3 linked regions of the Homo sapiens genome follow. Each later gene encodes a partner of the first gene's protein in a complex. Each region holds a gene or a part of one and is shown in the gene's direction. Other genes may lie near its edges.

The links.
Region 2: the proteins of SF3B3 (region 1) and PHF5A are in contact, whole or in part, in a crystal structure (PDB 7B91), measured with the Homo sapiens proteins. Residues at the interface, in NP_036558.3 of Homo sapiens: Gly85, Arg86, Gln104, Glu105, Thr106, Phe107, Gly108, Lys109, Ser110, Leu140, Ile154, Ser155, Ser156, Pro157, Glu159, Ser1162; in NP_116147.1 of Homo sapiens: Gln14 (codon at 2,341), Ala15 (codon at 2,344), Gly16 (codon at 2,347), Val17 (codon at 2,350), Arg44 (codon at 3,394), Asp47 (codon at 3,403), Glu79 (codon at 3,499), Asp81 (codon at 3,505), Arg82, Asp83.
Region 3: SF3B3 (region 1) and DDX46 share a complex: the UniProt entries of both Homo sapiens proteins name them as parts of the 17S U2 SnRNP complex.

The regions. Positions count from the first base shown.
Region 1 is NC_000016.10:70,554,699-70,558,448, forward strand, and holds part of SF3B3 (splicing factor 3B subunit 3), read left to right. Parts: intron 1-352; coding exon 353-508; intron 509-1,480; coding exon 1,481-1,636; intron 1,637-2,187; coding exon 2,188-2,331; intron 2,332-3,750. UniProt on the Homo sapiens protein: Component of the 17S U2 SnRNP complex of the spliceosome, a large ribonucleoprotein complex that removes introns from transcribed pre-mRNAs.
Region 2 is NC_000022.11:41,467,205-41,470,954, reverse strand, and holds the start of PHF5A (PHD finger-like domain-containing protein 5A), read left to right. Parts: upstream 1-2,262; 5' UTR 2,263-2,301; coding exon 2,302-2,353; intron 2,354-2,807; coding exon 2,808-2,831; intron 2,832-3,340; coding exon 3,341-3,507; intron 3,508-3,750. Other genes in the region: ACO2 (aconitate hydratase, mitochondrial precursor), read right to left, coding at 1,773-1,808.
Region 3 is NC_000005.10:134,810,680-134,814,429, forward strand, and holds part of DDX46 (probable ATP-dependent RNA helicase DDX46), read left to right. Parts: intron 1-541; coding exon 542-679; intron 680-1,016; coding exon 1,017-1,166; intron 1,167-3,750. UniProt on the Homo sapiens protein: Component of the 17S U2 SnRNP complex of the spliceosome, a large ribonucleoprotein complex that removes introns from transcribed pre-mRNAs.

The DNA.
Region 1 (3,750 bases):
AGCAAGCCTTAGGGGTAGGGAACATATGATTTGGGCACATAATATCCCTCTCTGTATTTGCCATTTTTCTGTTACAGAGCCACATCACTGCAGCTTTCATCTCTAATAAAGATCTTTATAAGTGTTTTGTTAATAAGCTTTGAACTTCTTTGAAGTGGACACTGCAAAACATGAACTATTTAAAAGTTGACCTTGCCTGAGGCCTACTAACTCTTTTGTCTTTGATTCAACTGGTGCCTCAAATGCAGTGGCCCCAGGTCTGATTTTAGTGACAGATCTGATAGATGTGAGGGTCATTCTGAGTGATGAATCAAATTGTTAAAGTCAGGTTTCTTTCTGTTACTGACTCTAGGTCTATCCAGATGGCATTCGGCACATACGAGCAGACAAGAGAGTCAATGAGTGGAAGACCCCTGGAAAGAAAACAATTGTGAAGTGTGCAGTGAACCAGCGACAAGTGGTGATTGCCCTGACAGGAGGAGAGCTGGTCTATTTCGAGATGGATCCTGTATGTTATTTTATCATTCACTGTGGGACTTATTGTAGGGACCAGAGGGAAAGATGGGCATTGTAGTCTAGTCATTTAGATGATAGTATGGTGAAATCCTGTCTCTACTAAAAATACAAAAATTAGCTGGGCGTGTTGGCATGCACCTTGTAGTCCTAGCTACTCAGGAGGCTGAGGCAGGAGAATTGCTTGAACCCGGGAGGCAGAGGTTGCGGTGAGCTGAGATTGCACCACTGCACTCCAGCCTGGCGACAGAGCAAGACTCCGTCTCAAAAAAAAAAAAAAAAAAAAAAAGCGAGCTGGAGTGACAGTGTTCACAAACCAGTTTGGTCCCTTACAGAGATGGGGAAAAGGGGTAATTTGATGTCTAATTCTAGGTAGAGTTATGAAATCCCCTCTTAGCAGTGAAACACTTGCTCCTCCTGCATTTCACTCTCTACTTTTCCAACAAATATTTGGCATAGATTTAATTTCTGCAGTCTGAATCCATTTCAGAAAACTTCTATATGGAAGGATGTTCAGTACACTTAATTCTCTTGCTCTCAGGAGGTCTCTAGTGTGGCCAAATTTGTAGCCTGCCTGTACCTTTGGTTGAGATTTCTCTGTCTTTAACCATATTTGAATTCCCTTCACCCAGAATATTCTTGTAAAACACAGACAGTTTTATATGTCTCCATTTCCTGAGAACAAAGTTGGCTCAGAAAATTTGTGGCACATTGACCTTGTCAAAGGTCTGTTCATTCTCTTATTGATGGAAGATACTCATTTTGCTTGCTGTGAGCCTGTTAACTTCAGTCTTGAGAACTCAGGTAGATAAATTCTTGTCATTTACTATAGTAAGAGGAGTGAGAGGAAGCAGAACAAAATACAACAGCCCTCCTTCATTCTCTGGATCCAGGGTTTTGGGGTGAATTGGAGCATCTAGACCCATCCCTCTGTAGTTTTGACCTTGCTGTGTCTTTCCTCCTGTAGTCAGGACAGCTGAATGAGTACACAGAACGGAAGGAGATGTCAGCAGATGTGGTGTGCATGAGTCTGGCCAATGTACCCCCTGGAGAGCAGCGGTCTCGCTTCCTGGCTGTGGGGCTTGTGGACAACACTGTCAGAATCATCTCCCTGGATCCCTCAGTGAGTGACACTCTGAGCTTCAAGGATCATCTGGTTGGAACCTGAGCATCTGGCTCCTGATGTCTATCTCTGAGATCCACTCCTGATGTCTATCTCTGAGATCAGCTGGGTTAGAACCCAGAATCCATACCTGCTGCTTCTCTTGTCATTGCAGTGTGTTTCAGGAGTTTCCTGCTGTGGTTTAAGGATATGATCTGAGACTACAGAAATGTTTCTTTGGCTTAAGCCTCAACTCCTTTTTTTAAGTTAACAACCAAGACTGCATAAATTTGACTTGCTGCAGGACCCTAGGTGACTTTTCAGGAGGTGTGCTTTGCTTAATTACCTTTGCCATTATCTTCTTTGACAAAAGGAGGAAAGCATGATCTTCCCGAAGCTTATTCTGAAATTGGGTGTAACTAATAACTCAGTACTCTCTTAGAACTCACTCCCCGGGTTTTTTCTGTGCATAAGGAAGTACTTTTTCAATCCTAGAATTAGATTTCTCTGGGTATGTTTTTTTCCTAAAATTGTCATTTTCTGTGTTTTTATGATTTTTCTCTCCCTCTCAGGACTGTTTGCAACCTCTAAGCATGCAGGCTCTCCCAGCCCAGCCTGAGTCCTTGTGTATCGTGGAAATGGGTGGGACTGAGAAGCAGGATGAGCTGGGTGAGAGGGGCTCGATTGGCTTCCTATACCTGAATATTGGGCTACAGGTAAGAGATCCAGAGGCCCACATTGTGGACATTAGGCCTTCTGTACGTTTCACACACTCCTTTGTTTGATAACAGGGATTTTCTCTGCCCATGGTTTCAGATCCTCACCTTATGAAAAGTGAACAGTGTCACTCTGGGTTCCACTTTTCTCAGCTCTTTAATTCGAACAAATCAGGCTGAGAAAGAAATATTTTGATAAAGAGTCTTCACATCTGATAAATGCTGTTTGATAGCTACTCTAAGTCAGAACTGGATGGGTTCCTGAAGGATCAACTGTAGTTCCCACTATTCACTAGTTTCAAAAGCAGCAATGAATACCTCTCAGTTCATAATTGGCTTCATTAGCAATAAAGGACCCCTAAATGTTCCCTGTTGTCAAAGTTGCTGAGCTCTTTGTGCCGTGAAGAAAAGGTGTGCTTTAACGCTAAGATAGTGTCAGGATTCTTGATCATATGCTTTTCATTTTCCTTAATGATTATTGACTCAGACATCTAAGTAATCTAGCCCAGGTACTTTTTGCTTTTTAATTTTACTTCCTAATTTAGAAATCTCAAACATAGCCAGAAGTTAGAGAGACTAATACAGTGAACTTCCATGTACCCAGTTTTTTTGGGAGAGGGTTGTTGTTATTTTTTTAGTTTTTTTTCTTTTGTTGGATTTTTATGGGCTGCCACATGGGTTTTCGGTCTATTTTTTTCTTTTTTAGTTTTAACAGCTATCAGCAACATTCTGCTGTTCTTATTTTATCTTTTCCCTGGACTATTTTAAAGCAAATCCAAGATCTATCATTTCATCTATAAATACTTGATAATGTAGTTCCAACAGATGTCTGTTTTTGTAAGATACTAGTATTATCATGCTCAGCAAAATATAACAATAGTTCCTTATTACCATGTTCCAGTTTTCCCTGTTCTTCTTTCCCCCAATGTGGCTTTATAGTTGGTTGTGCTCAGGACCTCAGCATAGCAGTCTACGCTTTTTCCATTTCCTTCATCTTTCTTTTTATGTCTCTTAAACTGTTCTACCCCATTTTGAAGTATTACAAGATCAGATCATTTGTCTTGTAGAATTTCCCACCTTCTGGACTTAATAAAGTCATTCCTTATGTGTTCAAGTTCCTGTATCCTCTGTATCAAGCTGGTGGGTAGAATTAGACCATGCCATCCATTAGAAATGTAAGGTGAACTACAGGTGTAATTTAAATTTTCTAGTAGCCACGAACAGGAAAAAAGTAATTTTAATGTTTTTTTTTTTTCTTTAAAAAAAAATAGAGATAGGGTCTCGCTGTGTTGCTCAGACTGGTCTTGAACTCCTGGCCTCAAGTGGTCCTCCTACATTGGCCTCCAAAAGTGCTGGTGGGAATGCAGGCATGAACCACCGTGCCTGGCCAGTTTTAATGTTTTATTAACTCTGTATATC
Region 2 (3,750 bases), on another chromosome or scaffold:
CTCTATAATCATTTATCTTATCAAATAATCTTGCCTGACTCCCTTAAATCATGAGACAGGAAGAAACAACTATTTCCACATCATTAACCTAGAGAATCAAAAGACGTGAAGAGGCCAGGTGTGGTGGCTCACACCTGTAATCCCAGGACTTTGGGAGGCCAAGGCAGGCCGATTACTTGAGGTCAGGAGTTTGTGACCAGCCTGGTCAACAGGGTGAAACCCCGTCTCTACTAAAAATACAAAAATTAGCCAAGCATGGTGGTGCACACCTGTAATCCCAGCTACTCGGGAAGCTGAGGGCAGGAGAGTCACTTGAACCCAGGAGGCAGAGTTGCAGTCAGCCAAGATTGCGCCATTGCACTCCAGCCTGGGTGACAGAGCAAGACTGTCTCAAAAAAAAAAAAAAAAAAAAAAAAAAAAAAAAAAGATGTAAAGAGATAATTAGGTGCAAATCCTTTCCCTTAGCCCGGAATTGAGATCAGAAATATTTTCTTTCAGATAAATGATGATTTTACTTTAAACCATATGGTTTCAATTTAAGCAATGTGATGAAAAATAAGTTCAAGTTTAAATTTAAGCAATGTGATGAAAAATAAGTTCAAGTACCACAAGCTTCCTGAGAGTACAACGCATAACAACTCGTAAAATTCTATTATCAAAGTTGCGCCACTTGATCCAAAAGGAATTCACAAAGTTAAATGTGAAAGGTTGACAGAGAATGTCTACAGATGCTTGCTTGATTTTTATTAACAAAGTACACATTTGACATTGAACCTCTGAGTATAACACCTTCCCAGGGCTGTCAAGTTAGAAGTGAAAAAATCATCTGGCAGTCAGTCAGCTTTCTAGATAGCTCCTAACAGGGGAGTCAAGGTCAAACTGGAGTCTCCTTATCCTCCCATATTTGACAAGCAACTTATTGTGAGGCTCAAAATATTCGTACTGCATTCTGACAAACAGAAATAATTGCACCGTGGTTCATAAAGTTCTGTGAGGGCAGGCTGACATAAACAAGAACTGAGTGGTGGTAGGGCCCATGCTTCTGCCACAGCACTTCGGTGACACTCTTGAGAATCAGAACTTTCACCTACTTTCTACCAGCTTTATCATCTATCAAATGAGAAAAACCACCTCATTCCTACGATTACAGGAATCAAATAATATTATGAAGAATTAAAACAGGCCTCAAATCTTGTGCAAAGGTGAGAGACTATTATTATATTATTTACTACGTATGGGCCCAGAAGACCGCCCCCCTCCCCGACATTCCACGTTCCGCAGGGTCCTCAAAAGGTGGTACAGGGTCCTAGTTTCTTCTCCAGACTCCAGGCCTGGCAACCGTAGATGCTGTCATGCCTCTGTTGCTAAGAGATGGGAAGTGAGGCCTCAGGAACTGGGCCTAGAAGACTCAACAACGACCGCGCCCCCTAGTCACCTTGTCCTCACCTTGAGGAATGGAAACACACCCCACGGGAGCAGGCAATGCTGTCCTCAAAAAGAAGAAAGAGGTGCCTCCGCTCTTCACCCGGCCGCCGCTGCTTGGGCCCACGCTTCTTGCGAGGCAGGGACAGGGCCAGGAAAGCTGACTGTGCCGGGGACGCCTTGACCTAGGGCACCAGAGAAGCGGGCACGGGTGCCGGGCCCACAACCGGGACAGGTACACGAGAAGTTGGCCCCAGGTTGGGCCCGCCTCGCCCTGCCTCGCCCACAGCCGCCGGCACAGTAGGAGGCACCCCGCCCCCGTGAACCCAGAGGTCCCTGAGCTCGCTCACCTGCAGCCGAGTCACCAGTAGGCTGTAGGGCGCCATTTTGTGCACTGACAAAGATGAGGTCGCATTAAAGTGACGTCCCACACGGCGCCTTTAAAGCCTTTGGGCAGGGGCGTGCCCGGAAGAGTGGGGCGTCACGGTGAAGGCGAGGCCTCCCTAGAGGCGCCAGAACCCTGTGAACGCAATGGGCGGAGCTCACGTGCAACGAACAGACACGCAAGAGGAAATCGGACTGCCCAAAGACACTTGCAGAAATAGATACCAAGCACAAAGATGTTTTACCCAAGAACAAATTTTAGTTATCTCCGCCATCCAAATCTGGGAGAGTTTTTAAGAGTTTCATGCACCTGCCAGGACCTGGCCGCCCAGCAGCGACAAAAACTCGCGCGAGAGCAAGACGGGCCTGGTGCAAGGATTGTAAACTGACGGAAGCTTAGAGAACCAATCACAGCGACGTGGAGGCAGGAACAATGGGGGTTAAAGGTCGGACGGAAGTTCCCGAAGCTTCCGGTGGCCGGCTTAGTTAGGAGCTATGGCTAAACATCATCCTGATTTGATCTTTTGCCGCAAGCAGGCTGGTGTTGGTGAGACTGCGCCCTACCCCTGGCTGTCTGGGCAGGGGTGGTATTAGGAGCTGGGGGGTCGGGGGTTCCCGTCTCTTCCTTAGGGGCTTGCCTCGCAGGCGCCACGTTTCCCGCCTCTCAGGCGCGGGGTGTTGTAGGAGCGCGCAGGTTTGTGGCCTCTGATGAGAAGAGGGCGGGGGTGCGCGTGCTGGGAGCCCCAGGCAGGTATCGGGGGGTGGGGTCTGAACCAGGTCCAGAGAAACTCTGAGCTTGCCCAGGGCGTTGGAGGAGATTCAGGAGGGTGCTTGGATGTAGGTTTGGTTCATATGGAAATTTGTAATGATAAAATGGCTATCCGCAGGTCTCACTCACTGCAGTCCTTACTCATGTCCCTACCCCCAGCTCGAGGATGTACTTCTCCTCTTTCTCAAAACCTTTATTCTAATTGTACTTTTTACCATCTTTCATCTTGCAGCCATCGGAAGACTGTGTGAAAAATGTGAGTGGAACACACCGTCCCAACAACCCACCCTTCCCACTCCCAGTTTTCTGTGGAACCAGCAAAAGTGCCACAAAGAGGGCTTTGAGTAGATGTGCCTGGAAGTATGTGAACACTGAATGCTGCACTTTAGCCAAAGGCCCCTCTAACTCCCCACTGCCGCTTGCACATTTAACGCTGTATCTCTCTAGTTTTCAACGGGAAGAATCGCCAGAGTAGCATGACCCCTCCCCAACACACAGCACTTTGCCAGCAATTATACAGGCTTATCATCTCCGAGGTGCTTTTCTAAGCTCTTCACATATGTTAATTGGTAAACTTTTGTATGTGTTGAGGGGCTTGAGATGGACACTGGGGAAACCAAGTTTTGTGATGCCAAGAGGAGGGCCCTAAAGTCACTGTCAAAAGGAGACTAGTGTATTTCCCAGGAGACTAGTATATTTCCCCATGGCAGGAGATAGCAGAGGACTGAAGAACTTGTGAGCATGACTCCATTCTCTTCCTTACAGGTGATGGCAAGTGTGTGATTTGTGACTCCTATGTGCGTCCCTGCACTCTGGTGCGCATATGTGATGAGTGTAACTATGGATCTTACCAGGGGCGCTGTGTGATCTGTGGAGGACCTGGGGTCTCTGATGCCTATTATTGTAAGGAGTGCACCATCCAGGAGAAGGACGTAAGTGTACAGCTTTCCATCTGACCTTTCCTCCTTTTGTTTAGTAACACTTTGCCATCCACTGCAATCTCCTATGGTCTATGGAGATTACTGTGTTCATCTAGTCATCTAGGTTATAATTTCTTCAAGTTCTGTGAGTCAAACTGGGTGTAGTCCAATAAAAGGCAGTTATTTTGCATCAAGGGGAAGAATGCAAGGGAAGCAAATCTTTGTCAAGACCAGCAATTTGGAGAGCCCTCTCAT
Region 3 (3,750 bases), on another chromosome or scaffold:
GAAATTTTCTAGTTTGCTTGTGTTATTTTAAAATATTAAACTTGGGCCGGGCACAGTGGCTCGTGCCTGTAATCCCAGCACTTTGGGAGGCCAAGGCGGGCGGATCACCTGAGGTCAGGAATTTGAGACCAGCCTGGCCGACATGGTGAAACCATGTCTCTAGTGAAAATACAAAAATTAGCCGGGCATAGTGGCAGGCGCCTATAATCCCAGTTACTCGGGAGGCTGAGGCAGGAGAATCACTTGAACCCGGGAGGCAGAGGTTGCAATGAGCCAAAACTGCGCCACTGCACTCCAGCCTGGGCAACAGAGTGAGACTCCATCTCAAAAAAATAAAAAACAACAAAAAATAAAAATTAAACTTGGATATTTCACTTTGAACCATTAAGTAATTTAGTAAGACTCTTTCGTGGCTTTTAAAATTCTTTAGTTAATGTTGTCAATCTCGAGGATTTATTAGGTGGATCAGATTTTATCTTATGATCTAAGTAGGATCCATCTTGTTAGTGTCTAATAATTGTACTTTTTCATCATGCATTAGGGTTATGCTTATACTTTTATCACAGAGGATCAAGCTCGCTATGCTGGTGACATAATTAAAGCTCTTGAATTGTCAGGGACTGCAGTACCTCCTGATTTAGAGAAACTGTGGAGTGATTTCAAAGATCAGCAGAAAGCTGTGAGTTTTTAACCCATGTTACTCTTCTAGAAATCATTAATGTGACTAAACCTTGATTATTTAATTCTTGGAAATCTTTTATTTAACACTTGAAAATTTTGCTACGACTATTTTTATTTCTCTCTAGAGGGAAAAATGAGTGAAAGCTAAAATCCTATCTTATTCTTGAACTTAGTATTTTGTGGTGTCTATGTAGAGCTCTTAGTTTATCTTACATGCTAGATGAAGTGTTTTTATTACATTGACATACACCACCTTGAAAAATATTTAATTAGTATGAATTCCTAAACATTAAAGTTTTTACTATGAGATTAACTTCGTTTTCTTTTTTTGAAAGGAGGGGAAAATAATTAAAAAGAGTAGTGGGTTCTCTGGTAAGGGATTCAAGTTTGATGAAACAGAACAAGCTTTGGCTAATGAGAGGAAGAAGTTACAAAAAGCAGCTCTTGGTCTACAAGATTCAGATGATGAGGATGCTGCAGTTGATGTAAGTACTATTATTCTCTCATTCTTAATTGAAGCAGTTATTTCTTTTGTACTGGAGGTCTTGCCATATATGGTTATCAAGATAGACAATCACTGGAAACCTTTACAAGAGGTTGGTTCCAGAACAGTTTTGGAAAATCTGCCTACTACATACCAGTACCCCTCCTCTCAATATATAGACCACTCATTAGCACTTCAAAGGATGTGAAAAGTCCTTTTTTTTTTTTTTTTTTTTTTGCGATGGGAGTCTGGCTGTGTCACCCAGGCTGGAGTACGGTGGCGTGGTCTCCATTCACTGTAACCTCCGCCTCCTGGGTTCAAGCAATTCTCCTGCCTTGGCCTCCTGAGTAGCTGGGATTACAGGCATCCACCACCACGCCTGGCTAATTTTTGTATTTTTAGTTGAGGCGGGGTTTAACCTTCTTGCCCAGGCTGGTCTCAGATTCCTGACCTCAAGTGATCCGCTTTCCTTGGCCTCCCAAAGTGCTGGGATTACAGGCGTGAGCCACCTCGTCTGGCCATGGATGTGAAAAGTCTTTAACGAATCTTGTTTAACTTCATTAAACCCAGAAATTCCCCAACATACCTGATCTCAGAACACTTTTGGACATATCATGTTAAACTTAAGTTCAGAAAATAATTTTGGAAATCAGAAATTCAACCTGATCTTATCATTAGGAAATTGACTCCAAGAAAAGATGTTAGGTCCAGGACCACAGTGGGAGTTAACACAGACAGGACCAGAACCCAGTTGTCCTATTAACCTTAAGCCATTTCTTTCTAGGATACCATACTAGCTCAAAAAATTAGCCGGGCGTGTCTTGCTCTGTCACCCAGGCCAGACTGCAGTGTCGTAATCTCAGCTCAACTGCAACCTCTGCCTCCTGGGTTCAAGCGATTTTCCTGTTTCAGCCTCCCTAGTAGCTGGGATTACAGGCACCCACCACCACGCCCGGCTGATTTTTGTATTTTTAGTAGAGATGGGGTTTCACCATATTGGCCAGGTTGGTCTCAAACTCCTGACCTCAGGTGATCCACCTGCCTTGGCCTCCCATAGTGTTGGGATTATAGGTGTGAGCCACTGTGCCTGGCCAATAAAGTCATTTTTTTTTTTTTGAGACGGAGTCTCGCTCTGTCACCAGGCTGGAGTGCAGTGGCTTGATCTTGGCTCACTGCAACCTCTGCCTCTCAGGTTCAAGTGGTTCTCCTGCCTCAGACTCCCAAGTAACTGGAACGACAGGCACGCGCCACCATGCTTGGCTAATTTTTTTTGTATTTTTACTAGAGACAGGGTTTCACCATGTTGGCCAGGATGATCTTGATCTCTTGACTTCGTGATCCGCCTGCCTCGGCCTCCCAAAGTGCTCAGATTACAGGCGTGAGCCACCACGCCCGACCACATTTCATTTTTTAAATTTATCTGTTACCATGTAACAAATCAAAACTTAGCAGGTTAAAGCAATAAACACTTATTATCACATAGTTCCTTATGGTCAGGAAATCAGGAGCAGTTTAGTCAGGTAGTTCTGGCTTAGGCGCTCGTGAGATTGCAGTCATCTGCAGGCTTGACTGTTGCTGGATGATCTGCTTCCAACATCAGTCACTTTGATGTAGATAGGATGCCTCAGTTCTTCACCTCTTTGCCTGTCCTTACCCACATGGCAGCTGGCTTTCCCCACAGTGAGTGATCAAAGAGAGCAAAGAGAAAGCTTTAGTGCTTTTTATGACTGTCTCTGAAATTACACACTGTCACTTCCACTTTATTCTTTATGGGGTTTTTTTTGTCTTGTTTTGTTTTGTTTTGGAAACAGAGTCTGACTCTGTTGCCCAAACTGGAGTGTAGTGGTGCGAACTCAACTCACTGCTGCCTCAGCGATCTTCCCACCTCAGCCTCTTGAGTAGCTGGTACTATGGGTGCACCACCATGCCCTGTTAATATATATTTTAAAATGTTTTTTTTTTTAGAGTCGAGGTCTCACTGTGTTGCCTAGGTTGGTCTGAAATTCCTGGGCTCAAGTGATCCTCCTGCCTCAGCCTCCCAAAGTGATGGTATTACAAACATGAGCCACCATGCCCAGCCCACTTTCTTCTATTAGAAGGAAGTCATTAAGTCCAGCCCACACTCAAGAAAAAAGACTATTAAATAATTTGTAGCCATGTTTTAAAAACATCTGTCACTTTTTGACATTATGGTAGTTTCCTCTTTTCTGTGGTTTTAGTTGCCATAGGTTAACCACAGTCTGAAACTATTACAGTATTTTGAGACCACATTCATATAACTTTTATTACAGTATATTGCTATAATTGTCCTATTTTATTGTTGTTAATCTCTTAACTGTACCTAATTTATAAATTAAACTTTATCATAGGTATGTATGTATAGGAAAAAACAGTGTATGTCGGTGCGGTACTATCTCTGTTTTTAGGCATTCACTGGGGTTCTTGGAATGTATTCCATGTGTAAAGGGAAAACTGCAGTATTTTTAACTGTTTTTTAAAATCTTGTGATAAAATACGGTGATTGTTTCTTCGGGTGTTAAAGTAATATATAATTTTATGAAAAATGTAAACAGTACTTAACACGA